Regions from separate parts of the Homo sapiens genome. Here regions 1 and 3 are each linked to region 2. The links come from fine-mapping of genetic effects on gene expression. A gene starts in region 2. Each other region holds a variant in brackets. All regions are shown on one strand. Distances are from middle to middle.

What was found. PIP is the estimated chance that this variant, and not a neighbour inherited with it, causes the effect.
Region 1: its variant is the best candidate, but not a certain one, in a credible set for the expression of ITGB5 in whole blood (INTERVAL, PIP 0.60).
Region 3: its variant is the best candidate, but not a certain one, in a credible set for the expression of ITGB5 in tibial nerve (GTEx, PIP 0.58).

The regions. Positions count from the first base shown.
Region 1 is chr3:124,766,246-124,776,573 of GRCh38, forward strand. It overlaps ITGB5 (integrin subunit beta 5), which reads right to left. Exons shown (of 15, transcript NM_002213.5): 11 at 7,445-7,667; 12 at 2,768-2,868; 13 at 1-100. Among named protein-coding and RNA genes, the nearest start is that of MIR544B, 39 kb to the left of the region's middle. RefSeq lists a silencer at 2,703-2,752 and enhancers at 4,832-4,911, 5,852-6,567, 6,568-7,282, 7,999-8,713, 8,714-9,429. The variant A/G (reference allele first, on the strand shown) is at 4,996.
Region 2 is chr3:124,880,306-124,889,968 of GRCh38, forward strand. ITGB5 (integrin subunit beta 5) reads right to left here and starts at 7,060. Exons shown (of 15, transcript NM_002213.5): 1 at 6,626-7,060. The coding sequence starts at 6,695. RefSeq lists silencers at 3,097-3,391, 6,449-6,538, 6,999-7,438 and enhancers at 4,900-5,784, 7,553-8,435, 8,436-9,320.
Region 3 is chr3:124,853,784-124,864,111 of GRCh38, forward strand. ITGB5 (integrin subunit beta 5) reads right to left here. Exons shown (of 15, transcript NM_002213.5): 3 at 5,459-5,663. It also overlaps the pseudogene ENO1P3. Among named protein-coding and RNA genes, the nearest start is that of ITGB5, 28 kb to the right of the region's middle. RefSeq lists an enhancer at 5,025-5,562. The variant C/T (reference allele first, on the strand shown) is at 5,196.

The DNA of each region.
Region 1 (10,328 bases), 110 kb before region 2:
AGGTTGGACTTCCCACTGGGGAGCTCCACATAGGTGAACATCATGACGCAGTCCTTGGCGGTTTTGTAGAAACATAGCACAGCCTCCTGGTCATCTTTCACTGGAAGAAAACCAAGCGGGAATGGCCTGAGTCTCTCTGAGCAGCCCACAGCCACTGATGGTCGGGGCAGGGAGCCGAGTGCCTTGAAAAAGGAAAGGGCATGGGGGGTGTGGGCAGAAAATCTTAAGGGGAGGCTGGGCCTTTGAAGATGAGTTCAGTTTTCTCACACCAAGAATGCAGGCCCAGGGCTGAATTTAGATGGCTTTGGGGACACGTGGAACACATTAGAGGATCTCCAAGCCTCTGAAGTGTTAGTCGGGGGTGATGTGAAATAACAGAAGGTTTTAATGGTTTCGGGGTGGGGACGGGTGAAGGGATTGGCCACGGAAATTAAAGGGATAAAGAAAGAAAGAAAAACCATCCCAGCCCCCTTTGAGGCTTGAGTGGGGCTTCATATTTGAGAAACAGCCCAGGCCACTTGGGGCTGAGAGCTGGCCACAGAGGCCAAGAGGCAGCAACTCCTTCCTGGGATGCAAAATCAAAAAGAACCACAGGGCAGTGAGGACACTGGGTGAGAGGCTGGTGCCCACCGTGGTGGCCATGCCTGGAGATAAAGTGAGACAGTGTGGAACTCAGGCTGTCCCCAGCCTGGCCCTGAACGTGGCCCGGCCTCCCTCCTCCATATTAAGAAGCCCCTTCCTCAAGCTGCCTCAGCAACTCCCTGCCCCCTTGCTGCCATTCCCCAAGGTGGGGGTGTCACAGTCCCCTGTCCAGGCATTACCTACATTCCAAGGCTTCCCTGGGAGAGGGTTAGCGGGCTGTTTTTTGGAGAGAAAGGAACTAGGGGAAGTGCAAAGTGAGGCAAGGGGTGAGGAAATGCAGTGGCAATGGCAATGGGTCCTGGGGAGGAACAGAAGGTGAACACTAGGGCGGTAAATGCTTTCCAGCTCTTGCCTTTTTAACCTTTTCAACCTTGCTGCTAGACGGAGCTGTAACCTGGAAGCAGATGAATTAGTGTGGTTATCAGACACGAAAGCCTGGACTTTCTGTCTCAGCTCCCTTCTGGGCTGGGTGAGTATGAGTGAGCATGTGAGTGTGTGTATGAAAAAAGCTTGGAAGAAAGAAGAAAAAGGGTAAATGATGGATTGGAACATAAGCTTTCTCTGCTGCTCTCTCAGAGGACTGGGTTGGGAAGCAGCTGTGCATGAACGGCTGTCACTGCTATAAACCAAGCGAACCAGTCCTTGGGCCACAGGAAGGCATTGTTTCCTTCTCTGACCATGTGTGCCTAGTTAGGGGCAACCAGCCCAGGTCTGCTGGCAGAACCTGAGGTCGGCCAGGCCCTGAGCTGCAAGATAGAAGCAGGGGCAGGAAGACAGGCATGTGAGGAACCAGACTGTGGTCCACTCCCCACAGTCTCCTAAGGAGATAGACAGCACCTGGCACACAGTAGGCGCTCAACGAATATGTGCTGGATGCATATATAGCTCAAATATTAAGAAGGAGCTGGGCATGGTGGCTCACACCTGTAATGGCAGCACTTTAGGAGGCTGAGGCAGGTGGACTGCTTGACCCCAGGAGTTTGAGACCAGCCTGGGCAACATGGTGAAACTCCGTCTCTACAAAAACAAAAATTTGCCAGGCATGGTGGCACATGCCTGTGGTCCCAGCTACTTGGGAGGCTGAGGAAAGAGGTTTGCCTGAGCCCAGGAGGTCGAGACTTCCAGTGAGCTATGATGGTGCCACTGCACTCCAGCCTGGGTGACAGAGACCCTGTCTCGAGACAAAAAACCCTCAGAAGCCGTGACTGTAGTCAGTCAAAATAGGCAGGTGGGAACAAGGAAGTCTACAAAAGATGTACGTTAGGACCAAGACAGACAGGCAGCTGGGGGCCAGGAGTTTGCAGAAGCCAGAGGTGAAGATAGAGGGGAAGCCTGCCAGTGAGGGGAGCCTGAGACACAGATTCCCTTTCAAGGTGCATAATTTCCCCCTCACCATTTAAACCATTTTAAAGTGTACAATCAGTCGTTTTACTCAACTCACAATGTTGTGTAACCATTCCCACTAATTCTGAATATTTCCATCACCACAGAAAGAAATCCACACCTGTTAGTAGTCAATGCCAATTTTCCCTTCTCCCTAGCATCAGGACACCACTAATGTACTTTCTGTCTCCATGGCTTTCTCTGTGTTGGACATTTCATATGAACAGAACCATATAATACATGGCTTCTTTTGCTCCGCACTGTGGTCAGGCCTCACCGTGCCGTAGCGTGTTTCAGTGCTTCACACCTCTTAGTGGCTCAATAGTGTCCACTGTATAGATGGACCACACTTTGTTTTCTTTTCTATTTATCCGTTGATGGACATGTGGTTCATTTCCACCTTTGGCTATAGCGAATAATGCTGCTGTGAACATTTTTGTACGTATTTTTACATGGACATATGGACCTAATCCTCTAGGCTGTATACCTGGGAGTGGAATTGGCACATTGTATGGTGATTCTACGTTTGACTTTTTAGGAAACTGCCAAGCTGCTTTCCAAAGTCCGTACCATTCTACATTCCCATCAGCTGTGGATGATGGTTCCAGCACCGGGTCCTCATGGGGAGCCCACAGTTATGCCCAGGAAGCCTGGGCAGTGCCTCCTGACTCAAGGCTAAAACTACCCTCCTCCCCAGGAAGGAGAAAAACCGTGACTGCCCGGGTGGTGGCAGCACACTCACCGATGGTGTCCACCCATGTGATCACCTCATCCCTGCATAGGCTGTGGCAGGTCTGGTTGTCAGGTTTCCCAGAGTGGAGCAGCAGGCACTCGACGCAATCTCTTTGGAAAAGAGGAGATAAAGGTGGGTGTCAGATAATGTAGAACAGTCCCACACCTGTCCCTGAGCTCCTGACAGTGCAGGACCTGGGAAGGCTTTCACTTCTTTCCAGCTGCAGATGTTCAGCCTCAGGGAATGTTTCTGCTCTGCCTTTCTTCTTGTTATGGGAGGAAGCCCAAGGGTTCTTGGAGGAGCCTGTGTGAGTTTAGTGGCATGTCTTGTCTACATGTCAGGTTGCAGACCTTTCAAATTCTGACACCAGGAGACAAATCCATCTGCACTCTGGTCCATCTAATGCCTGGTGAGGAGTCTGCTCCAAGCCAGAGGTTTCTGGGTGATAAAACAGTATTCCTGGCCTCCCAGAGCTCCTCACACTCCCATGGTCAGAGCTCAATGCCCCAACATTGTCCTAGTTCCCCACATCACGCCCTGGTCATCACCCAGGGCGGGGATCTCAACCCTCCTGCACGTTCAACTCTCCAGGGAGCTTTCAAGAGAAACTCCCAGTACCTGGGCCCAACCACACCTCCGGGGACTGGGCTTCCTGGGCAATTCTGATGCATGTCGAGGGCTGAGATCCACTGTCCCGGAGAATCTCGGGCTCCAGCCCCCTTCTCCCTCTCAGATAGAGCCCATCTGCCAGGTCCCCCGTGGCCTGCTGCCCACTTACCCACGAATCAGTCTACACTAGGCTCTGGCACAGGCTCTAGGGTGATGGCTCCTCCCAGGGAACCCTTGTTCTTTAACAGGGGCCTCCTCTAGAAAATGGATGAGCAGCCAAAAAGTGACACCTTGAGCCTCTCTCCTCCCACCTCAGGCTAACAGCAGGTGGTGGCTCAGATAGTGGGTGAAAATGCTTAACTACAACGTTCAATTAAATGGTCATTATTATACTTTATATCATCAAAACCAAGTTGCACACATTCTTTGTCTGTCTTCGGAGACATCTGGGAGAACAGGATTCCTGAGGTCACAGGGTGGGGAGCTAAGCTCTGGCTGCCGGGCTGTAAAGCTGATGTTCAAGGGGAGAGGTCCCAGGCTCCTCTGGTGGCTGGGGGATGGGGCTATAAGATGGTGAGCTCGAAGCTCCAGGGAGGAGTGGGCTGGGGCATGTTGCTCTCAGGGACTTTGTGATGCAGTGCTGCCTGGTGGCCTTCGAGGAGGGTGAGACACCAGGAGAGGCCCCTAGGAAACCGGGTCAGGACTCAAGAGCCAGGTGTGCCAGGGAGGCCATCAGAGTGCAGGGGGTGACCTCAGCTACACGAGGGACAGCCGCTGTGCCCCCACAGGCCTGTGGGGACCAAAGGGGCTGGGTGTCCAGAAAGCTCTCTGGCAAAAATACAGAGGGATGTGCAACTGCAATGTAGAGCCTTTATCATCATCTGTTTCTTAACTCCTCGGGATTAAGAGGCCAGCTACTAAAACATTTCCAGTGCAGAAACTGCGAAGTGGAGGAGCAGAACTGGACGGGAGCTCTGAGACCATTTCACTAAGTCCCCTTTATTTTACGGAGGAGAACTTGAGGTTCTGCAGCCAGGTGCCCCACCTCTCAGACTAGGCTTCCTAAGAGGTTCTAACATGCTTAGGAGCTCAACCATCCCTGAAATGGCTACAAAATCCCACTCTCCTGGGACTGACTTTATGGAAATATTCTGAAGTTAGAAACAAGATGGTAACTCTCCCCACAGTCACAGCCCCGGAAGGCGGGCAGCTGAGACCTGGCTGGGGGCCAGGAAGGGGTGGTTCCAGCTTCAGTCATTCATGCTGACCCAGCTGCCCCCGATCCCCCACCCTCCCCCTGCACCAGCCTCCCAGATTAGCACAGGGCTAAGAGGGCTGCTTTCTCTCCCGGCCAGGATTCTCTGTCCCTGCCATCTGATTCTCTGTTGTTAAACCATAGCTCCAGGCTGCTTCCAGGAAACACTCCCTAAGTATCCATGTGGACATATCAGTCTAACTCATATGCCCCATGTACTGGTTGAAACTTGTAATATATTGTAGTCATGTACTAAAATAAGTCTGCCTTTTAAAAAAATTAAGTTGTTTAGAGACACTTTGCTCTTGAGAGCCTGTTAACTGAAATCAGCTGGGTGTTGAGTGTGAACTCACCCAAAGTGAAAAGTGTGGTT[A/G]GTTAGATCCAGAAAACGAAGACTGGCTGCCCTGAAACCCCCAGAAAAAAAAGGATGTAGGACATTCAAAACCTGGTGCCTCCTAACAAGCAGCAAGTAGAAAAAACAGACTCTGATGTAAGTCACCATCAAAAGGACTTCGTTTAAAAAGAAAAAAAAGTTCCACCTAGGCTGTGAAAGAGACAGAGGGTCAGTGTGGCCCAGAGACAAATAAGAAGGAATAGTGGGCTGGGTGTAATGGCTCACACCTGTAATCCCAACACTTTGGGAGGCTGAGGTGGGAGAATTGCTTGAGTTCAGACGTTTGAGACCAGCCTGGTCAACATAGCAAGACCCTGTCTCTACAAAAAAATAAAAATTAGCCAGGTGTGGTGGTACAAGCCAATAGTCCTAGCTACCTGGGAGGCTGAGGCAGGAGGATCACTTGAGCCCAGGAGTTCAAGGCTGCAGTGAGCTGTGATGGTGCCATTGCACTCCAGCCTGGGTGGCGGGAGTGAGACCCTGTCTCAAAAAAAAAAAAAAAAAAAGGAATCGTGATATTCCCTTGTGGCATCTCTTTGCTCTCCTTGCTCCCTTCATATTGTGTAATGAATAATAAATTATTAAGTCTATGTCTTCTAAGAAATAAATGCTTTAAACATTTAAAGCTAGAGCTGTTTTCCCCTGGGCCTTTGACTTAAAGCCAATCCTCCATTGCCTGCTGCTCCATAGGAAGGCAAGACTCATTTGATGAGCTCCATGTGTATTGTCCTAGCTTGACCCCAACTCCCCATTTACCTAGTGTGCCCCAAGGACTAGAAGCATAGGCTCAAAAAGGTTCTGCTGCTGGGAGCTGGAGGTTGGGGGCACCTCCCTCGGATACAAAACGTGGATAATGGCTGACTCTGTGCTGGGATGGCCACAGCTATCTGGGCTCCAGATCCAGGATCCTAACCTTCCCCGGGCTGTTTCTACTTGGATCTGTTTTTTCTCTGCTCTTAGCAGGTCTAAAGTGAATCTGTTTTTCTTCTTCCTTACTCTCCCCCATCTCCTCCAATTAAACACATTAAAACCCAGCCCTGTCTATCTTGTCTCTCCATCTGCAGCCAGCTTTCAATTACCCACGCCTGGGTTATTTATGGCAAATGTCCAACCAGGGGTTCTGCCACCCAGAACGTTTCCGAGCACAGACTGACCAGCAGCCGCTGCAGGCGCAGGGAGCATGAACTCATTTCATTATCAGCCCGAGCCAGACATTTGGAAGGGAAATCTGCCAAGAGAAAATCACAGATGCGTTCCTCAGCCAAAGAGAAGCGACGTTTGTATTATGATTTGTTTCTGATCCTCTGTGTCCCTTCCTCCTTAGCATGGGTAATGATGACACAGCTGTTTCTCCAGCAAACTCCAAGAGCAAATGTCACTCCTGCTTTCCAGGGGCATCATTCTGTAATTCCCTCTCATTTGCACTCTGGTGGAGCATGCGGGGCTGAGCAGGAGGAGGTCAGCACGGCTATGGGAGGCCATGGCCGAGTCAGCGAAGGCTGGGGCCCAGGTCTAGACAATCTCTGCATTCAGCAGCAGCACAGAGCCCGTGTTCTATTATCTGTATAAATGGAGCAGAAAATTCAAAAGCCATTTGCAGTGGTTTCTGGCATGCCTTATCTAGGTCGGGTGCCTTTCTCTCCAATTTACTTTTTTTTTTTTTTTTTTTTGAGACGGAGTCTCACTTTGTTGCCCAGGCTGGGGTGCAGTGGTGCGATCTTGCAATCTCCGCCTCCCAGGTTCAAGCCATTCTCCTGCCTCAGCCTCCGGAGCAGCTGAGATTACAGGCACGTGCCACCACACCCCGCTAATTTTTGTATTTTTAGTAGAGACGGGTGTTTCACCATGTTGGCCAGGCTGGTCTCAAACTCCTGACCTCAAGTGATCCACCCGTCTTGGCCTCCCAAAGAGCTGGGATTACAGGTGTGAGCCACCATGCCCGGCCTCTTTCCAATTTACCTTCTGATGATGTTTGTCAGCATTTCCCATAAGGGTTCTGTGAAACACTGTTTGGGAGATATCAGTGTGGGGGATTTAATTCATTTGAAAAAAGATGCACACTGTATTCTCCTGTGAAAGCACACAATAGTACACTCAAGGCTCTGAGAAGGTGCTATTTTTGGTACCAACACCAATTTAATTTCATTTAACTCTGTGATTTCGTGATTTCTAAACGTGTTTAGGAACAGAGTAGCAGTTTTGTATTTCTTGTTCTGTTTTTGTTTTCTTACAAAACCCTTATGGAACCAGCATTTGAAAGCCACAGTTTCAGTTACGGTTGGTAAGAATGCGGCTCCCCAGCGAGGCTTGCTGGGTGGGAGATGCAGGAGGTGAGGAGTGGAGGCTAGCCGGCCCTGAGGGCTGCCTGGCTGGACCACAGGCCTGGCCTGGGTGAGAAGTAAGGTGGGGCTGTCAGTGGAACCAGTACCTCTTGGTGCTGCATGCATCCGGGCAGGTGGGGCACTTCTCACACATCTCCCCAAAGGCCCCCGGCTCCGTGCATTGGCACTGCCCACAGAGACAGTGCCCACGCTCGCTGCAGATCTGGCCATCTCTGCCCCGGCATGTGCTGATGTCTGTCGAGCAGTTACAGTTGTCCCCGATGTAACCTGCATGGCACTTGCATTCCCCGCAGTGACACTCGCCATGGCCTAAAAGGATACATGTGGCACATCAGCACCTGCTCACCTTTACACATGAGCACATAACCATCTGGTGCCCCACATGCCAGGACTGGGATTCAGCAGAGAATGGAACACCAACTCTGCCCTCAGAGCCTGTTTGGGGAGATAGACAGAGGGCCTAGAGCCAGCATGAAGGGACAGCAGGGGACCCTGGCAGCGGGTGTGGCTGGGTTGGGTCTAGACTGGTGCTCCAAGTTGGTCCAGAACTTGGCCAAGTTGGGCCACAGGGCCAGGACCCAGGGAAGCTTCCTCCTGCTTCAGTTGTGTGAATAATGGCCCCCAAATATGTTCCCACTCCAATCCCCAGAGTATCACTGTTACTTTCTACAGCAAAAGAGCTTTCACAGATGAGATTAAGTTAAGGATTTTGAGATGAGGGATTCTCCTGGATTGTCTCTGTGGGCCCTAAATGTAATCACCAAGGTTCTTCTGAGAGGGAGCAAGGGAGACTGGACTACAGAGGAAGGTGGCAGTGGGACAACAGAAGCCAGGATGCTGGCTGCTGCTCTGAAGATGGGGAGGATGCCAAGAGCCAAGGAATGCGAGGAATGCAGCTCTGGAGGCTGGAAAGGCCAGGAAGCCGATGCTCCCTGGGAGCCTCAGAGGGAATGCAGCCCTGCCGACACCTCCATGTTAGCCCAGTGAAAATGATTTCAGGCTTCTGACCTCCAGAGCTGTAAGAAAATAAATCCGTGTTGCTTTATGTCACTAAATCTGCGGTCATCTGTTACAGCCATAGCAGAAAACACGGTTGTTCTCCCTGAGTCCTAGTTAGAAGCTGAATTCCTGCCCAGGGACCCGAAACCCAGAAATGGATGATTTAGGAGCAGATGCTGAGAACAGCAGCAGCAGCAGCAGCAGCTAACACTCACCAGTGCTTCCTATATGAGCACCTTACACGTAGAAATGGGATGAATCCGCACAGTGACTTATGGGGCAGGCATTATTGTCCTTGTTATATAAGGGGTGAAACCAAGACCCAGAAAGGTGAAGCAATGGTTGATGGTCACACAGCTAGTGGCAGCAGAGCCAGGACTCAAACCCAGAGAGTCTGGCTCCAGAGTCCATGATCTCAGTGCCAAAGTCTACTGCCTCCTATGAGCACAGGCAGCCAGGACTAGAACCTGCAGGGGGATGCCCTGGCCCTTCCTTGCAGGGGGTCCTCTCCATCGCCTGCAAGGGTGGAGAGGCGGGGGCTGCCCCCACTCAGCAGGTGTGAGGGGCAGGAATATCACTCGGCTCAGAGGAATGTGTGTGCTTGTGAGAAAGCGAGTGTGAGTGTGTATGAGTGTGTGAGTGCAAGTGTGTGTGAGGAAGTATTTAAGTGTATGTTTGTGAGTGGGTGCAAGTGTGCATGAGTGTGTACAAGTGTGAGTGTATGTGTGTTGGAGTGCAAGTGTGAGGGAGGATGTGTGTGAGTGCGAGCATCTGTGTGTGTTGGAGTGTGTGTGTGAGGGTGTGTTGGAGTGTGAGTGTTTGTTCTGGAGTGTGAGCGTGCTGGACTGTGAAAAGACTAGATAGCACCGTCTTCCAAGGGGACCAAGGGCCTGACAGTGGAGTCTCCATTTTCTACACAATCAGAGGCAGAACGCAGTGCTACAATTGGTATTTTTTAAAAAATCAACTTTGTATTATTTTTTTCCCTAATGCCATTATGTGAAGGCTGATATTAATACAACCAAGAGTTTCATTTGCTGAGCACCACTCATCAACTAGTGGGTGACTGGAGAGGCAGGGTGGGGAGACCTTTCATTTTACTTCCACATCTGAGTCAGTTACCTGGCTTGTTAACTGGATCCCAGCACCTTCCCTGGACGACCAATGTGTGTGACCCACAATATAATATAGGTCAGAACTCAACTCCAGAAAGCCTCTTCACCCGCCACTTAACTTCCTGCCCCTGCTTCCCCTGGCTCCGTCCACTCTCTGGTGCCCAGAACCTGTAGGCGGCAGGGGGACCATCTGGACAGCCAAGCCTCCCAACCCTCCTGTGCTCAGACAGCCTCTCTGCTTACCCAGGGGTCTCAGAGCCACAGCAAATGTGTGCTGAGCAGGTGCCCTCCCATGTCACAGGCAGCGCTGAAGCAGATGGCAAGCCCTCCAGGAGAGGGAAGGAAAGCCAGACTCGGGCCCGGAGTCCGCTGTGGAATGCAGTCTTAACTGTGTAGATGCGGGCGTGTGAGGGGTAAGCCACTGGAAAGGGCAGTGTCTCGCAGCTCAAGGGTTCCATAGCAGAGGCTGGGGCAATGGGCAGCATGAGCTCATCCCTGGAAGGGAGAGGGCGGTCCTGCCCCTCCTCTCCACCAGTCTGGGACCAGCACCACTTTTGAGCCTTGGCAGCAGGAACTCCCCACGGGGAGCCTTCACAGGTGAAATGGATCCAATCCACACAACTCCCTCACCCTCTGGCCTCAGGGAGCACACTGGTCAAGAGCCTGGTTTCAATTAAAATGGCTCACTGTGAGGGGATTATTCCCCACCCCCCCAACATTTTGTTAGGAAAACTTCCAAACCTGCAGCAAAGTTGAAAGGATTGTGCAGTGCACATACATATCCTCCCCACCCAGATCCTACCTTCACATGTGACATGCTGCTTGACTGCTTATCTATCCACCTGTCTGCCCTTCC
Region 2 (9,663 bases):
CATATCAATATGGTTCATTAATTATAATAAAGGTACCATACTAATGTAAGATGTTAATAATAGGCAAAACTGGGTGTGAGGTAGATGGGAACTCTTTGCACTATCTTCTCAATTTTTCTGGAAATCTAAAACTGCTCTAAATTCTTTGAAGGCTTTTTTAAGGGCCAGGCACACTGGCTCACTTCTGTGATCCCAACAATTTGCAAGGACCAGGTGGGAGGAGCAGTTGAGCCCAGGAGTTCAAGCTACAGTGGGCCATGATCACGCTAATGCACTCCAACTTGGGTGACAGAGCGAGATTCTGTCTTTTTTTAAAAAATAAATAAATAAATAAAAGAGACACCGGGCACAGTGGCTCATGCCTGTAATCCCAACACTCTGGGAGGCTGAGGCAGGCAGATCACCTGAGGTCAGGAGTTCAAGACCAACCTGGCCTACATCGTGAAACCCTATCTTTACTAAAAATACAAAAAATTAGCCAGGCATGGTGGCACGTGCCTGTGATCCCAGCTACTTGGAAGGCTGAGGCATGAGAATGGCTTGAACCTAGGAGGCAGAGGTTGCAGTGAGTCAAGATCACACCACTGTACTCCAGCCTGGGCAACAGAGTGAGACTCCATCTCAAAATAAAATAAAAAAGAAAGGGAAAAAGAAAAGAAAAAGTACATATGTAAAAGTTTGTTTGTTTGTTTGTTTGTTTGAGACAGAGTCTCTGTCTCCCAGGCTAGAGTACGGTGGTGTGATCTCAGCTCACTGCAACCTCGGCCTCCAAAGTTCAAGCGATCCTCCTGCCTCAGCCTCCTGAGTAGCTGGGATTACAGGTGCACACCACCATGCCTGGCTAATTTTTGTATTTTTAGTAGAGACTGGATTTTGCCATGTTGGCCAGGGTGGTCTCGAACTCCTGACCTCAGGTAATCTGCCTGCCTCGGCCTCCCAAAGTGCTGGGATGATAGGTGTGAGCCACCCTGCCTGGCCAAATCTTTTAAATAAAGTTTTTCTAAGCCCATTAAAATCCTGGGGTGAGAGAAGGGATCATCTGAGTACCAAGCATTGTGGCTGTGTCAGGGACACAGGTAAATAAGACCAGGGCTATTAACCAGGTAGCAGGTGAGACAGACCAGCTGCAGCCCCCAGTCTCTCTAATGGAATGGGCCATGAAAGCAGGAGGAGGAGGAGATAGTTCTGCTCCACCCAGGGATGTAGGGAAGGAGAACAGGATATACTGGGTATAAAAGATCAGAGGACTTGTTCTGTCACTTATTGGTTATGTGACCTAGGGCAAGTCACTTAACCTTTCCAGGCCTCAGCTTCCTCATGCAAACAACTCAGGGAGTAGACCAAATGGCCTCCATACCAGCTCAAAAAATCCTAACACAAAGCCAGGAGTGGTGGCTCATGCCTGTAATCCCAGCACTTTGGGAGGCCAAGGTGGGCAGATCACCTGAGGTCAGGAGTTCAAGACCAGCCTGGCCAACATGGTGAAACCCCATCTCTACTAAAAATTAAAAAATAAGCCAGGTGCGGTGGTGTACGCCTGTAATCCCAGCTACTCGGGAGGCTGAGGCAGGAGAATCGCTTGAACCTGGGAGGCAGAGGTTGCGGTGACCAGAGATTGCACCACTGCACTCCAGCCTGGGCAACAGAGTGAGACTCCAATTAAAAAAAAAATCCTGACACATTCCAACAGAATCTCTTTCTCCCAGGATGTTTCTTCCTAACAAGCCGCATGCATAGTCCCTGACTTCAAAGCTAGCTGTGGAAGGCAACAGGGAGTTGAGGACGGGATGCATCGCCCTCTTCACCTCCCAATTACCAAGATTCAGGTTCATCCATTATTCATTCAACAAATATGTGCCTGGTGCTGTTGTAGGCATGGAGGATACAGAGATGAATAAAACCAACAAGACTCCCTTATTCACGGAGCTCACATCCTGGCTGGGGGAGAATTCTACTTAGGGGAAATAGTGAAGAAGATATGTAGTTACATTAGATGGTGGTGAGTGCTAAGGACAAAAATTAAAGAAGAAAAGCAGATAAAAAGAACTCGGGATATAGGGAGGAGGTTGCAGCTTTAGCTGGGAGCGGCCAGGGAAAACTTGGCTGAGCAGGAGATGCTAGAAAAAGGGTTGCAGGGTGGAGGAAGCCGGTCATGCAGATATCTTGGAGGACAGTATTCCAGGCAGGGAGAAGGGCTGCCATGGGAGCATGGCTGGCACGCTGAAGGGACAGTGGGAGGCCCATGCTGCTGGAGCAAAGGATCGAAGGGAAAGTGGTGAAGGAAAGTCAGAGAAGTAGGTGGAGAGTTCGTGGAGCCTGGCAGGACTCTGGGAAACCATTCGAAGGTTTTAAGCAGAGAGATATGATCTGACTTGAGTTGGATCTCAGGATCACTCTGAGGGACAGTTGAGAATAACTAAAGAGAACAAGTTGCAGAAGTAGGTCCCAGCTCTACAAGAGACAACCAGCTCTGAAAATGTCTGGCTGGAGTTGGGGAGGGAATCCTATAAAGAGAGGGCAGGGTACCCCGCAGTGCCTTCAAAGCATCAGCCTTAGGGGATGAGTCAAGCCTGTCTTAGAGCAAACTTTTCACCATGAGGCCCGGGAAGTAAACCCTGCATTCAACGGAAGCAAGAAGCCTCAGAAACAAATGGGTGCCTCTAAATAAAGCATTCCTTTACATTTATAGAGGCCATTAATCCCATTCGAACCGGAAAGAAGGAAAACAAACCACGGCAGTCAGTTCTCCAAGGCCCTCGGCTCCAGCCAACTGGAAATACCTGTGAAAAGAGACCCTATCCCATTAACCCAGCTGCACACTGCCATGTGAAAGGGGCCCTATTATTTAAGTAGTTTGTAATTGTCCCACATTACTGATATCGTTAAAGCATCTCAGAATATTTCCATGGCCAGGCTGAATAAGAAAAAGTAGTTACCAGGCCACGCAGGCACAAAAGGCCTTTTGCCAAACTACTTAGATATTTTAATTCCCCGTTGCCTCAGTAGCTAAATAAGCATGGAGAACAAGCAGGCGGGGAATACTAATTAGAGCTAATTAGACCCTGCCCTCTTCTGCCTCAATCCCCTTTATAAAAAGCTCCCCCAACTCAAGGATGATGGAGTTAAAATGTAAATCCATAGGATAAACAGCAGTCTACAGACCAAACCCACTGTTTGTATTTCATTGTCCTGTCAGCTCTAAACCTGTGCCTGGTTACCTACAGAGAGCTGCAGACCCAGCCAAATTCCAACAACCCCATCACAGACCACAGGAAATGTGGTAGGGGGTTGGGGGTAGAGGAAGGGTGCTGCCAACATGAGTCCACTAAATAAAACAAAGGGCTTTCTTAGGATGTGCAGAGCATTCACTAGAAGAACATTCGATTGCTTTTTTAAAAAGAAATGAATGTGATAGCACACATAATTCCAGCGGTGTTGCAGGATCCTCTTTATAAGACGGTGTTCCTCTCTCTGTCTTAGCAAAGGCAGCGTGGAAAAGCCTCACCTCAGTGAGACCCCTGGTTTTGTGGGAAGACCACATCCTAGGATTCTGTCTGAAGGCTCTTGGCCATAAGATAATAAAAAGAGCAGGAGATAGCCCTTGGTGGGGACGGGAGGGGGTTGTCAGCCGGCCAGGGACTTGTTTGAAATGAGCCCCTGAAACCTAAGGTCAGTTTCCTGCTGGAAATCCGTACTGAGATGAAAGTGGGGTTAGAGCAACAGAGAGAGGCACTCAACCACTGGTCCAGGAACACCCAGGCAGGCATGGCCCTGAGGGTCATCTCTTTCTTTTCTCTGAGTAACTAGGTTTTTTTCTTTCAAATAATGTTCCTAGTGGCAAGACAGAAACACTCCCTGAATAAAGTACCTGTAGTGCTTCAAGAAAACAAAGAAGGGAAGGGAAGCAAAAAAAAAAAAGAAAAAAAAAAAGAATGTTGAAGTTAATTCAGCAACACTGAAAAACTAGGAGAAATGACACAGATGTGAGTCAACCTCTGCTAATCCTGAGAAGCTTCAGGGCCCTAAGAGGTAAGCAGCAAGTTCTGGAGGCCAGTGCCATGGCTTGCTCCACCACCACCACCACCAAAACCTGTAGTCAAAGAGATGGGCAGAGGCCAGCCGTGGTGGCTCACACCTGTAATCCTAGCATTTTGGGAGGCCGAGGCGGGCGGATCACCTGAGGTTGGGAGTTAGAGACCAGCCTGACCAACATGGTGAAACCCTGTCTCTACTAAAAATACAAAATTAGCCAGGCGTGGTGGTACATGCCTGTAATCCCAGTTACTCAGCAGGACAATCACTTGAACCTGAGAGGCAGAGGTTGTGGTGAGCTGAGATCATGCCACTGTACACCATCCTGGGCAACAAGAGTGAGACTCTGTCTCAAAAAAAAAGAAAAGAAAAGATAGGCAATGGGAAAACAGGACCCCAAAAGAGTTGCAAATGAACCACCATGCTCAGTGCTTTTCTCTTCCTTAAGCTGAGTCGGTAGGACAAAGGGCACTGGACCAAAAGCCATGGTCCCTGGTCCACCACTCCTGACCCAAGTAGAGGGGAAGGGCAAGTCACTTCCTTCCTGAGCCCATATGAGAAAATGGACATCACCGTGAAGATGTACGTGAACTCTGAAAAAGAGAAAGCAAGATGCAAGTGGAAAATAATGTATTTTTAGAAATTATTCGCAGCCAGGCGTGGTGGCTCATGCCTGTAATTGAAGCACTTTGGGAGGCCAAGGCAGTTAGATCACCTTAAGTGAGGAGTTCAAGACCAGCCCAGCCAACATGGTGAAACCCCATCTCTACTAAAAATACAAAAATTAGCCGGGCATGGTCGCAGCGCCTGTAATCATTGCTACTTGGGAGGCTAAGCCAGGAGAATTGCTTGAACCTGGGAGGTGGAGGTTGCAGTGAGCCGAGATGGCACCACTGCACTCCAGCCTGGGCTACAAGACTGAAACTCTGACTCAAAAAAAAAAAATTATTTGCAACTAGAAATTATTATTATAATTCTGTTTGTCAGAATTACAGAATGTCAAGCTGGAAAGGAACTTAAAAGCCATCTCCTTTGGCAGTTTCTGAACTTTTGGATTTCAAAGAAAACTAAGATTTAAAAACAAAACAAAAGAAACAAACAGAAAAAGAGAAGGGGAGCTTAACATAGGGTTGTCAGATTTTCTTATTTTGCCAAAATTAAAAACTACTAATATTATTAAGAAGTATTAAAAGAAAATGTTCCCACCAAAAAAAGAAAAAGTGCCTAATTTCAAACTAAAGGAAAGTCCTTGTGGAGCAGGGGAGCGTTGACAACAATACATTCCTGTGTGATGCAGGCTACATCTTCCTGCTCCTCGCTTTCCCTAGGGACCCATGAAAATATCCGTGATGGGCACTGGCTGCCGGATGGGTGTTTGGAATCCACTCATCTACTCTCCAAGCTCTGGAGTGATTATTTTCCCATTTAAAACAAAAACCAAAAACCTTGCTACAGTATTAAGTTTGAATTAGGGTCTGAACGAAGTTATTGTTTGCTCAGACCCCTCCTCCGCTCTTAAACCTAAACCTCCACTGCCTTCATGTAAATGAGACACCGTGGGGGAACAGTCCTCCCTTCGGGCAGCCAGGCAACCACTTGGCTCACAAGAGCAATCAAGTATCTCCGGCTTGAAAGTTAATAGAGCACTATTATTTCCTAAAAGAAAGGAGAAAATCCGCATCCCAAACAAGTGCATCCTTCCTCGAGGGCCTCCAAACTACCACGTCCAATCATCTCCCAACTCTGAAAAGTTAGAGCAGGTAACCGAGGGATCCTTGCAACGCTGCCAGCCCACCGCAGCGTCGGGCTAAGGCAATCTCCACAGCCCCTGTCCTCTGCTCCAGAATCCTCCACAGTTAGGGGAGTGTGAGGCTCCGAGCGTGTGCAAATCGCGGGATAAAGTCGGGCAGAAGGAATTTAATAGGGAAGTCCCAGGTGGGGCTGTGGTTTGGGACGCGGGTGCCCCCTCGGGTTTGCGGTGGCCTAGGCGAGGAGGAAGCAGGCGGGGGGCGGGGAGGGTGGGGGCTGCATCTTCAAAGGCAGGCGGCTAGCCTAGGCGCAGCGAACTCCAGGATTCGCTGTGGGCCCTGTGCACCCGCTGTTCCAGGAGGCGAGCCCTCCGGAGTGGAGGTGGCCCCGGGCTTTGGCTGGGGTTTCGAGACTCCCTTGCTTCTCCGGGAACAGGGCACCGACGGCATCCCCCCAGCAGCCCGCCCGCTCCCGGCCGGCCACAAGGACCGCTTTGTGCCCGCCAACGGAGAGCCCGGGCCCCAAGGCAGGGCTGGCGGCGGTCCTCCCCGTGCCCTGGGCGCGGGCCCTGGCGGGCTAGGTCAGCAGGCCGGCCAGCCTGTTTACACAGGAAGGGAAGCTCCTCCTCAGCCCGGGAGGGAACAGGAGACTCACGACAGCCCGGCGGGGCTGCGCGCGGGGAGCGCCCCGCGGGGCTGTCCCCCAGCGACTGGCCCACCAGGGAGTGCCCCGAAGGCGCCCTCCGCCCTCAGGCACCGCCTGCGCTCCCCGCCCCTCCGAGACGCCCGCCCGCGGCTGAGTGTGCGACAAAGTTTCTCTGGGCGCCGTGGGCGGCGCGGCTTACCTGCGAGCCGGGGCAGGAGCGCGCAGAGCCCCAGGAGGCAGGCGTACAGCGGCGCCGGGGCCCGCGGCATGGTGGGGCGCCTCCCTCAGCGGCGGCGCGGTCGCTGCACTCCGCGGGGGCCGGCGGCCGGGGCTGGGGCCGGAGCGCGGGGGCCGAGGGCCGGGGGCCGCAGCCGCATGCCCCGCGCGCAGCTCCGGCTCACGGCGCCCGCGCTGGCCCGCGCCCCGCCGCCACCATCCGTCCCGCAGCACTCACGGCCGAGTCCCGGGACCGCGGCTGCCCTGGCTGGCCGGCCGGGACTCCTAGTGTGTCGCCGCTCGGGACGGCCCCAGCGGGCTGCTCCGGGTAGGGGAGGGGCTGGCTCCGCTCGGCGGCCGCGACTTGGGCTCCGAGACGCGCCCAGCGCCGAGACTCCCCCGCGCGCCGGCACACTCTGCCCCTGGCCTCCGCCCCTTCCCTTCCTCCCTCCGGCCCGCCAGGCTCCACTTTCCTCCTCTCCTTTCTCCTCCCCTTCTCTCCCCTGCCAGGCCCTCGCCCGGCCGCCACACGGTCAGCTTACGGTGAGGCGGGGCGGGGCGAGCTCCGGGCCGGGCCAGCTCCGCCCTGTGCGGGGACCGGCCCGGGACGCGGAGGCCCTACGGGCCCAGGTGGAAGTCGCTTGCGACTCACTTGGGGCGTGGGGGGCTCGAAACCACTGAGTAGAGCCCGCTCCCGTTGCTTAGCCGCCCGTCGCCACGGGAAAGGGGCGGGGCACGCTGTATTAGGCGAGCCGAGATTACTTGGGCCAAAGGCGGTTGCTAGACTGCGAGAGGGAGAGCAGGTACGGGGGTCGTGCCGGTACCGCCTCATCCTCCCAAAGCCTCACTGCCGGCGGCCTGAGATGGGACGTAGACGCCCGCGCGTGGAACCGCAAAGCGACTTCTGGATGAGCAAGGGAGGGCGTGGTGGGGCGTGGAGGCACAAGTAAAACCTACATTTCTTTTTCTTTTCTTTTTTTTTTTTTTTTGAGACAGCGTCTTGCTCTCACTCAGGCTGGAGTGCACTGGCCCAGTCTTGGCTCACTGCAGCCTGGACCTCCTGGGCTCAAAGGTTCCTCCACCTTAGCCTCCTGAGTAACTGGGACTACAGGCGCGCGCCACCACACCCGGACAATTTTTACATGTTTTGTAGAGATGGGGGTCTCGCTGTGTTGCTCAGGTTAGTCTTGAACTCCTGGGCTCAAGCATTCCTCCTGTGTCTGCCTCCTAAAGTGCTGAGATTACAGGTGCGAGCCACCGTGCCCGGCCCACTTTTCACTTTTTAACTTTTGCACCTTTCAAGGATTTGAGACTGGCCAATATGCCGCTATATTTCGTTGTCCTTACTGATAATCTGTCAGTTTCCATGATCAAACTGATAGACTCAAAAACATATGCTCAGGCTTTCATCTTATCATTTACATATAAGCTGGATCTGAACTAGCCAATAAAGAGTGGGGTGGGGTCTTCCTCAGATGGTGCAGGAAAGGATGCCTTGGGCTTGGATTCGCTACAAGTGCGTTTAGAGTGGAGTGGTTGATAGGCAAGAGAAGAGGCGACATTCAGGTAGGGGAAAATAACGATAGAATACCTACCAAGTACAGAGAGCACACTGCCAGCCAGGCACTGTTCTAAGTCCTTTACCCATATTAACTCATTTCATCCTCCGACAACCCTACTGTTATCCAGTTGAGGAACCGAGGGACAGAGGGGTTAACTGCTGGAGGAAGTGACAGCTAGGATGCCTCGTTCAAAAGTGCAGCATGGCTTGGCTAAAACTGAAGCAGTAAGGGGGAAAGAACAAAGGGGTCTCACCTTTGCAGGCCAGGGACCTGGTGGAAGAATGGCTTGGAGGGCCCAGTGGAAAACTGTCCTAACTGCCCAGCTCAAGGAGTTTGGATGTTAACCTTTATTTCTTGGCCTCCTCCCAAACTCTAACAAGGTGGTGCCTCAATGCCTGAGGAAGTAAACTTCTTGAAGTACAATATAGTGTGCCTGGGGGCAAAGATGCAGCAGTCCATAGCAAGCTCCTTTATAGTATTTGTGAAAGGAAAATAAATCTCAGGGCCCCCAAATCACTAAGCCAGGAGAAAAATCAAGCTGGGAACCGTGTCAGGCAAACCTGCCTCCCATTTTATGCCTAATTAAGATAGCTAAGAAGCTACATACCTCCCTCACAATTTACCCACAGGAAATTCCTTTTGGACAAAGGACAGACAGAACTCAAAGTCATCCCTCTGAGGCTCACCTGAGACAAATGAATACCTGATTGCTCCCTCTGGCCTATTGTTTATGTAAAAATGCAGATTCACTGAGCCAGACTAAATTGTGTATTCAGTGGAAGGCTGATCAAGGACCCAAAAGAATGCAACCTTTTGTCTCTTATCTGCTTCTAACCTGGAAGCCCCCACTTCAAGTTGTCCTGCCTTACAAAACCAAACCAATGTACGTCTTACACATATTGATTGATGTCTCATGTCTCCCTAAAACGTATAAAAGCACACTGTAACCCCGACCACCTTGGGTACATATTGTCAGGACTTCCCGTCACTGGCACATCCTTAACCTTGGCAAAATAAACTTTCTAAATTGACTGAGACTGGTCTCAGATATTTGGGGTTAACATATTCTATAATATCCTCATGTTTGTTTTGATGTAAAACGCTTGTCCCTAAACATTTTACAGGAGCTGTCCTGGGTTTATCTTGGAGCTACCTGTCTCTTAGGTCAGTGGCCTTGGAGCTACTCTTATGCCAGTTTGAGAGGCAGTGATTATAAATAATGGGGCCAGCGCGTTGGCTCATGTCTGTAATTCCAGCACTTTGGGAGACCCAGTCGGGTGGATAGCTTGAGGCCAAAGTTCGAGATGAGCCTGGCTAAACATGGCGAAACCCTGTCTCTTAAAAATACAAAAATTAGCTGGGCATGGTGGTGGGTGCCTGTAATCCCAGCTACTCTGGAGGCTGAGGCCTGAGAATCGCTTGAATCCAGGAGGTAGAGGTTGCAGTGAGCCAAGATAGC
Region 3 (10,328 bases), 26 kb before region 2:
TAAGATGCTATCATTGAGGACAGCGGAGAAGGGTACATAGAACATCTCTGTGTTACTTTTGCAACTTCTTGTGAGTCTAAAATTATTTCAAAATGTAAGAAAGCTACCAATCAAGGGTCATTTTTTAAGAGGTTAAAGGACTGAGGCCAATAATGACTTTAATAAACTATTCTTAATTGCTCAGTGTTTCAAAACCACCTTTAGCTTTTGACGGTTCTCAATAAGCTTTACTTTCAAGTTTATGTCCTTTCTTAAGGATTTTATGCTCTTTGTTAATGATTTTTTCTAAGGTTCTTATCCTGACATGTAGTTTCCAGTACTGAAATAAAATGGAAAACATGATCCTATATTTACACAAAATCCTGCTTGAAGCTTGGCAGTCCTTCAAAAAGTTAAACATAGAATTACCATATGACCCAGCAATTCCACTCCTAGCTATAGACCCAAGATTATTGAAAACATATGTCCCCACAATAGTGTGTACATGAACGTTCATAGCAGCATTAGTCATAATTGCCCCAAAGTATAGGGTGTTAACTGTGGAGTTATTAAAAGAAAAAAGAATTGTCCCAAAGTAGAAACAGCCCAAATGTCCATAAACTAAAATATAGTATATCTATACCTCCACAATGGAATATTATTTGGCCATAAAAAGGAATGAAGTACATGCTACAACATGGATGAACCTTGAAACATGTTGCTAAGTGAAAGAAACCAGCTAAAAGACCCACACATTTTATGACGTATAGGAAATGTCCAGAATATGCAAAACTATATAGAGAGAAAGTAGACGAGTGGATACCAGCGGCTGAAAGGGGAGGGTGGGAGACGGTAGTTTAAGCAGTAACTGTTCACGGGTATGGGACTTCTTTTTGGAAAATGTTCTGGAATCAGACAGTGGTGTTGACTGTACAACCTTGCAAATATACTAAGAACCACTGAATTGTACACCTTAAGTTAGTGAATTTTATGGTCTGTGAATTATATCTCAATTTAAAAAAATAAAAAATGTCCTGCTTAAAGTAGACAGAAATTCTTTTTAATTTTTATTTCCTTCCTGAGACTTACCTTGGAACAATTACTTTGCCTTCATGAAGTGTCTTTCATATTATGCTGAGGCTTGTCCTTGATTAGTCTGCGATAAGTCTGGCAAAGTCTTATATTTCACTCAACGAATAACTATTATGAGGCATGGGGGGTAGGGCAAGGAAGAAGACACAAAAGCATTTCTAAAAATATACAATGGAGGCCCAGCGCAGTGGCTCACACCTGTAATCCCAGTACTTTGGGAGGCCGAGGTGGGCAGATGACTTGAGCCCAGGAGTTCGAGACCAGCTTGGCCAACATGGTGAAACCCCGTCTCTACTAAAAATACAAAAATTAGCCAGGTGTGGTGGTGTGTGCCTGCAGTCCTAGCTACTCAGAAGGCTAAGGCATAAGAATCGCTTGAACCTGGAGGCTGCAGTTAGCTGAAATCACGTCACTGCACTCCAGCCTGGGCGACAGAGCGAGACTCTGTCTCTCTCTACATATATATAGATAGATATATGAAAAACCAACCCCTATATACCTGAAAGCCCTCCCTAGAGTCAGGGGGGAGATACCCTGAGGCAAATATGCATTTTGCATGACTGAAAATTTTGCTAACTGCCACATACCATTTTTCTCTCCCCACAAATTCTTCAGGTTTGCCTGTACTTCTCTTTGTAAATGTTAAAATTATATTTTCAAAATTTTAAGAGGCATCATTGGTTTCAAGTGTTTCTACATTTGGGAAACATATTCACAATGCTTGTAGGTCTTAGGAACTCGTATTTTCATCAGATCTCTTCCTAGTCTTCATCTCTTCAGACTGAACCCTCTTCATAGTCTGGGTGTGTTTTCAGGAGGCAGTCAGCTCCTCCAACTGCTTGACACCACCAGCACTGGGCTCTCCACCACGACACCTTCCGCAAGACAGAGCTACACAGCATCCACACTGTGGTTTTGTATCAACATAGGATCACGGTTTCCATTTTATTTCTAATACCAGAAATCATATCATAATGCTTAGCAGGAGATGTAACTATACCAAATAAGAATGATTTTCTTCCTTAACTGAGCATATATTGAGTTTTATGCATAAATACGGATTGTATGCAAACCTGCCGTTACTCAAATCACTTATTTTTTATTTTGGGTTCTTGTTGTTGTTGTTGTTTTTGTTTTTTAGAGTCTCATCTTCATCTAGACTGGAGCCTCAAACTCCTGGGTTCAAGGGATCCTTCCACCTCAGTCTCCCCCATAGCAACGGGGTCTCACTATGTTGCCCAGGCTGGTCTCAGATTTCTGACCTCAATCGATCCTCTCTCCTTGGCCTCCCAAACCACTGAGATTACAGGCATAAGCCACCACACCCGGCCTTCTCTAACTCTCTAACTCTTCTACAGGAACTGCTGTAAAAGCCAGTTGATAGTCAAACCAGACAACCATCTCTGCTCACACTCACACCTTAATTCTCATTTTAAAAACTGGAATTATTAAAGTGTGGACATCTTTGGATTTGTGTGATGCAACTCTTGTCTAAGTTAAGTCTATCCTGAAGAAGAGAGACTTGCCACCATAAAGGATACTTCTTGGAGAGAACACCACAGGCTTTGAGAGCTATTCTAGATGAGGAGTTCAGAAAATGTAAATTAAAACCTTCCTCCACAATGGCTCTGAAACTACAAACTCTTTTGGAGGTGTGAATTTTTTTCCTAATTTTCAAAGATTATTGAATGAAAATAGCACGATTATACATACATTATGATAAGTATATGAAAAATACAAAAAGGTGAATAATACAGAGGACATAGTAAAAATGAAAAATAATTTTATGTTAAAGTGGATTATTTTTCTAGAATTTCATGTGTTATTGCTATACTGTTACTATGATAAAAAAGAAAATACACTATTCTTATACAACACGATGTTCCAACATATTAAGGGTCTATAACAACTCCTATATCCCTTTCGGTCCAAACCCTGGACCCTGAGTCTGTCTTCACATAAGAGATTTCTCTTTCCCCAGAGGACATTACCAACCATCTGCCCACATAAGTGCTCAGCTGACTTTTTTCTACCCACTCACACAGCTCTGTAAGAGTTCCCTTCCTTTTCTCTCTCAATTCAGTATCTCACTAAACAAAAAGGCTGAGTGTTGCTTACAGTGAGAAGGTTTGCAAAAATCCTAACTTCAATTAATCTCAACACTGATTCCTGGGCAGGCAACCCAATAGTTTAAGCTTCTCTATCCAGCAGGGCCAACTTACACTCTTCTTTTGTTTCTTATTTTCAAGACAATTAAAATAGACAAAATAAAACATTTCTCAACTATATGATGACTTGGAGCTTTCTTTAAAAACTCTTGGTGCAGACCATACAATGATAACCACAGCAACAACAACGAGCTTTACTGAGTGCTTACCACATGCAGCACTGTGTTAATCCATTTCCAAGGCACTGAGCATCCCTGGTCAAACCTCCATCTGGTACCCTCGGCCACTGCTCTTTGAAAATAATAAAAATTTTAACTTTGAAAAGTTCACTGATACAAAAAGTCCATTTAAGCCTCTGAACATGCCCATGAGGAACAAAGGTGACAAAGACCCTAAGATGCTGAGAGATGGAGTAACTTGCCCAGGGCCTCCAAGCTAGGGACAGAGCCAGAGCTAGAACCCAAGAGAGCCAGCCAGATCCATGATCTTTCCACTGCTACAAGCTTCCCTGGAGTCTAAATAAACCATCTACAAATAGCTACTGCCAATGGTTTCCTAGACCATGGGATAGAAGAAAACAGCAAAAAATCAGTAAAATGTGAAAAAATCTGCCCCTTCCCAATAGCGTAATACTTTCCAATTTAGCCACATGCACATCTAACCCTTTGACATTGCAAGGCTTCTAATATGCAGAATATTCAATGATAAAAGTGGTGAACTAGAAACAGCCATGGGTTTGTGGTTACCAAGACCTGGGGCTGAATCGATTCACCACTTACTGAGAGACCTTGAGCAGGTTGTTTCCTTGTGTGTAAAATGAGAGCTACCTGGCCAGGCATGGTGGTTCACGCCTGTAACCCCAGCACTTTGGGAGGCCGAGGAAGGTAGATCACCTGAGGTCAGGAGTTCAAGGCCAGCCTGGCCAACATGGTGAAACCCCATCTCTACTAAAAACACACACACAAAAAAATTAGCTGGGCGTGGTGGTACACATCCAGCTATTAGGGAGGCTGAGGCAGGAGAATCTCTTGAACCCGGGAGGTGAAGGTTGCAATGAGCCAAGACTGTGCCATTGCACTCCAGCCTGGGTGACAGAGCGATACCCCATCTCAAAAAAAAAAAAAAAAAAGATAGCTACCTTAAAGTTAGGTCAAGTGTTTAGCACATAGTAGGTGTGCAAAACTGTTTCTTTATATTACATTATAAGTAATTATATTACCGTTTCCTTATATTAAGCAACTCTAAGGCTTGCAGGGCCCCATGGTCACAAAACAAAATATCTCCACTCTAAAAGTTTGTCCTTGCAGAATGCTACAGACTCAAATGGAATTTGCTGACAGGAAAAAACACTTTTTCCTAAAAGTGGCGTGTTTCCTGAGCAACTTGCATTCACTAAGGAGTAAATCTACCAGCATCCTCCTAGAATAAACCACAGCATTATTCACAAGAGCCAAAAGTTGAAGACAACCTAAATGTTCACTGACAAATGAATAAACAAAATGTGATACACCCATACAATGAAATATTACTCAGCCAAAAAAGGAATGAAGTGCTGACACATGCCAAAATATGTGTGAAACTTGAAAACATTACACTTAGTGAAACAAGTCAAACTTCAAAGGACAAATATTGGATGATTCCACTTATGGTAGGTATCTGGACTAGTCAAGTTCAGAGTCGGAAAGTAGAGTAGGCAGCCACTACACCCTGAATGACTGTAATTTCTGCCATCAGTTGCTCCCTGATTTAAACAAAATTTAAAAACAAAAATAAATGAAAAATAAAAAATAAAGTAGAATGCTGGTTACCAGGAACCAAGGGAAAGAGAGAATGAGGAGTTAATGTTTAATGGGTATAGATTTTCTGTTTAGGACGACGAAAATGTTCCGGAAATAGATACTGCTGATGTTTATACAATATTGTGAATTTAATGCTGCTGAACTGTACACTTGAAAA[C/T]GCTTAAATGGTAAATGTTATGTATATTTCACCACAATTGTTTAAAAATAGCAAAGATCTTCCTCTGTCCACAGGAGCCTGTCCACAGACACATCAATAAGAATATACTCTGCTTCCTGAGGTCTGAGCCTTGCCTCCCCATCACCATCTCGTGGCTCTGATCTCAGCCTGGCCTGACTCATTGTCCCATTATTAACAAGTCCCACCTCCCCCATGGGCCTTCCTGATCCCAGAGCATCCAGCCCTTTCTGTGGGCAACTCACCGGGCCGGAGGTTCACGGCAATCTCCTGTGGTGTCATCTGAATGACGTCCCAGCCTGCAGAGCCCGAACCCTTGCTGCTGAGGGGCAGGCTCCTCAGGACATGGAAGCTGCTGGCTGGGCTCTCTATCTCACCTCCACAGCCATTTTTGACAAGGTTTGCCCTCAGATCACACCGAGAGGTGATGGACCGTGGGCTTCCGAAGTCCTAGGCAGGGAAAAAGAGGAAGAGAGCAGGAGGTGGTCAGGGTGTCTCCCGAAAACATCGCATGTCGTGGCTGCGTCTCCATCTGGTTGACCTTAAATTCTCTACTTTCCATTTTCATTGTCTGAAAATGGAGGAAATGGTAATCCCTATCCCAGATGCTTCACCAAGTATTGTAAGGATTAACTGAGCTGCTGGACATGACAGCATTTTGTAAACTGTAAACACATAATAAAAATGTTCGGTTTTGTTGTTATTTTGATGGTTAAAATGCTCCTAACTGCCTACATGATTAGCAAGAGAAACAGAAATGATCAGAAGTTGTATAGCTAAAATTTTTTAAAAGTTGTTATATATTGCTGGGCATGGTGGCTCATGCCTGTAATCCCAGCTATTTGGGAGACTGAGGTGGGAGGATCGCTTGAGATCAAGAGTTTGAGACCAGCCTGGGCAACATAATGAGACCTCCTCTCTAAAAATAAATAAATAAGTAGATGAAATAATATATAGTTAAATAAATAAGATGACATATAAGTAGCTGAAAAGTCTTCCCTTGGGCATTCAAGAGTTAACCTTTAAGTTGTTCACTTATCATCTTTCACAGGCATTGGATGCTGGATAATCATTCAGGAGAACAATGTGGCAGTACAGGTCATATCCACTGACCCAGTGCTCTACTCCAAGAAACTTATTACAAGAAAATCATCTAAAGAGAAAGGAGAAACTCTATGTGATATATACGGCAGTATTACTTATAATATAATCTTTAAAACTTGCAAACCTAAATCCTTAAACCATAAGAATAACATAGCATATCACTTCAATAGATGACAGCCATTACAAATAATTATGGGAATTAAGAAGAAATTTAAAATATTTACACTAAGGAGGAAAAAAAAACCCAAAATATAGAATTGTATTTATTAGGATTTGAAAGAACAATTTTAAATGAGGTGTTATAGTAAAGTGACAAAAACATTTTTGTTTTTATCTTTGTTGTTTGTATGATAACGACACATTGATAAGAAAAATCTTTCTTTGGGTTTGGGAGAAAGCTGGACATCAGAACAACTCAACCTCATTTGGGACACCAGAAGGTTAAGGTATTAACTTTAAAATGAAACAATATACTTTATTATAAATCATGAAGCCTCCCTGGTCATTTCCGGCAAAGGGGTTTCACCTTTTCCCTGGTGAATGTGAAAAACAAGATTCCCCCCACTCTGGCAGGCTGGAAGCCAATGCTGTCCTATGAGTCTTTCTGGAGGAGTTAGGACACTGGTCCCTTCCTCTTCCCTCTGGAACACTTTGCCAGAAGCCTCATGTGAGTCAGCATCCCTTGACCACTTTGTTAGAAGCCAGACTGCTGGCAGAGGCACAAAAATCAGAGGAATGCACCCTCCCTCAAGGTCTCAGATGTCCTGGAACTACCCAATGCCCTTTAGAATCCTTATAAAATTCAAGATCAAGAAGTCAGCCTGGTGTGGTGGCTCACACCTGTAATCCCAGCACTTTGAGAGACTTGAGGCAGGAGGATCATTTGGGCTGGGAGTTCAACGCTGCAGTGAACTGCGATTGTGCCACTGCACTCCTGCCTGGGCGACAGAGCAAGAGCCTGTCTCAGAAAAACAAAAAACAAACACAAAAAAGAACAAGAAGTCAAGAAGACGCTGCAGTGTTTTTAAATAAGTAAAGCCAGATGTATTGTCCTAAGCCTACGGTATGTTTGTTTATATTCTGGGTTGTTTTTTTTTAATAACGATTTTTTATTTGTGCATTAAATCCCCGAGGATCTTGCCTGTCAACAACCTCCAGGACTACATCAAAGGTATAAGTGGCTCCATAAACACTTGTTGTGCAACAAGGTTAGAAAAATGAGTTTTCTAGCCAGCCATGGTGGCTCATGCCAGCATTTTAGGAGGCTGAGGCGGGAGGATCGCTCGAGCCCAGGAGCTCCGGGCTGCAGTGGGCTATGATCCATGCCACTGCACTCCAGCCTGAGCGACAGTGAGACTTTGTTAAAAAAACAAAACAAAACATATATATATATATACACACACACACACACACACACACACACACACAGAGAGATACACATATATATATTATTCTGGCCTTAGATTTTTTTTTTTTTTTTTAGACACAGTCTTGCTCTGTCACCAGACTGGAGTACAGTGGCGCAATCTCAGCTCACTGCAACCTCCGACTCCCTGGTTCAAGCAATTCTCCTGCCTCAGCCTCCCGAGTAGCTGGGATTACAGCCACGCACCACCATGCCCAGCTAATTTTTGTATTTTTAGTAGAGACGGGCTTTCACCATGTTGGCCAGGATGGCCTCGATCTCCTGACCTTATGATCTGCCCGCCTCGGCCTCCCAAAATGCTGGAATTACAGGCGTGAGCCAGTGCACCCGGCCTCTGGCCTTAGATTTAAAAGCAGAACTTTCTAAATGGGGTTCCAGGTGGTCAAGCTTGGCTCTGATATAGCAGTTCTAGTGAAGCAGTGAGAAGAAAAACACAGGGTTCTGGAAAAGGAGGGGTAACGACCTGAGGGCCCTGCCAGTTTGGGTCTGCTGTCTTGAGCTGTCTGAAGTAGATGTCTAATTAGCTTTCCAGAGCTTGAAGAGCTCAGGGGCTTGCCTGCCCAGTGCTTACTCTGCTAGAGAATTTCTGAATTTCTCACTGGCGAACTGAGCCTTGCTATCCAGCCCCTCTGCTTCTGAGGAACTGACTATACTTGGCCCAGTTCTGTTTGTCAAGGTGCACCTGTTTTGATCAGTCCAGTGCACAGCCCCACCACCAGGGTGGCAACGGAAGCATGGTCAGTTTTTTCAGAGTAATGAGAACCCCTGACACCTCTCTCACTGGTCTGGACCAGCTTACACTCTGGAATAGACTAGGGCACAGAGCCAACCTGCTTCACCTAAGCAGGAGGCAGGTGCACAATTCCTTCAGTTTGGTCAATGAGATGATCCCCCCCACTGCTGGGATACTTGCACTGGCAGTGAACTTCATCTGAGCTTCCCAACATCCTGCTCAAAGGGATTTTTGATGGATACTACCCATCATTGCAGAAGAACTTGTACAGGGCCAAATGTATCTGCTGGGACCATCAGGAGACTTAAAGTCCAAATCATATTTCCCAGACCTGAAGAACTGTGAGGCGGACAGGTCAGTGCCTATTACAACCCTAGTAGTGTCGCTGGCTTTCCCAAGTGCATGCTGTAGCAGCTCTGGGGCTTCTTTATTCTCTAGGATGTTAGGAGCAAAGCCCTCTTCATGCCCTTCACTGGTAGCAGTTTTCCCATGTTTCTCCTTAAAAACATTCTTCAGCTGAGGTTGTGATAAACCTCAGCTCCAGTGCATACGAGGCTTCCCTAAAGTTAGCTGCACCAACAACAAGAATCATGGGCTCCTGCACTGTCACCTGGTTGCCAGTGTGGAAACCACCATTAATCACATTAAAGCTGCAACTTGCAGGGTTGCACTGACTTCGGAAGCACAGACCAAGTCAGCAACATGATGGTACAAAGGGAGTCCTATTCTCAGCAACTCCAGCTTTATAGACAGCAAAGGACACACCATATGCCACGCGGACCAAAGTTAGATTTCTTCTCAGTGCCAGGCATCTCTATCATCAGTGTCAAAGTTCGCTTTCTTGCTATCTAGGTCAGGCCATATGGTTTTGTTGATGTGCTCAACAACTTTGAGGCATCTTTACCTATATATCGAGTCCTGTCATTATTTTCCCAGAGCTCTAGGGACTCAGAGCCACTAGCTGAGGCACCACGGGGCAAGGCAGGTCTGAAGAAGCTTTTGAGGGTAAGGCAGCTACCTTAACAGGGAAATTCCCCTAAGAGGTAAAGATCTCTTTTGGCACGGAGTCCAAACAATTGCTGTGACTAATTTCTTTTGATTTATTTTTGACCCGATAAGGAAAGAGTAAGCCATAACTGATTTGTAGCTATAGGTTCTTGTTGCCCAAGAAAAGGAACTGAGAGTGCTGCGGACTCAACAGAGGGAGTTAGGTCACAAGCCAAGAGCTTCGCCTCTATTCCATGTGTTCCTTTCTAAGTATTTTTATTTTCATTTTTGAGACGGAGTCTCACTCTGTCACCCAGGCTGGAGTGCAGTGGTGTAATCTCAGCTCACTGCAACCTCTGCTTCCTGGGTTCAAGTGATCCCGCCACCTTAGCCTCCGGAGTAGCTGGGATTACAAGCATGTGCTACTATGCCTGGCTAATTTTTGTATTTTTAGTAGAGACAGTGTTTTGCCATGTTGACCAGGCTGGTCTTGAACTCCTGACCTCAGATGATCGCCATGGCCGCCCAAAATGCTGGGCTTACAGGCATAAGCCACAACACCTGGCCTAGATATTTTAATTTTGAACAAGGATAGATGCATATTTAAAGAGAGAAAACCAAAATGACAGAGACCAGGGGCATATCTAGTAATGGCTATGACCTTCCAGGTATACAAACATTATAAATCTGGAAAATGTCTCTTAACCCTTAGTAGTTTAAGGTAAAAAAAGAAAAAAAAAGAAAAAAAAGAAAGAGAGAGAGAGGAGAAAGAAAGAAGAAAGAAAGAAAGAAAAGAAAAAAGAAAAAGAAAGAAAGAAAGAAAGAAAAAATGTCTCAAGACCTATATTTCTTTTTTTTTTTTTTT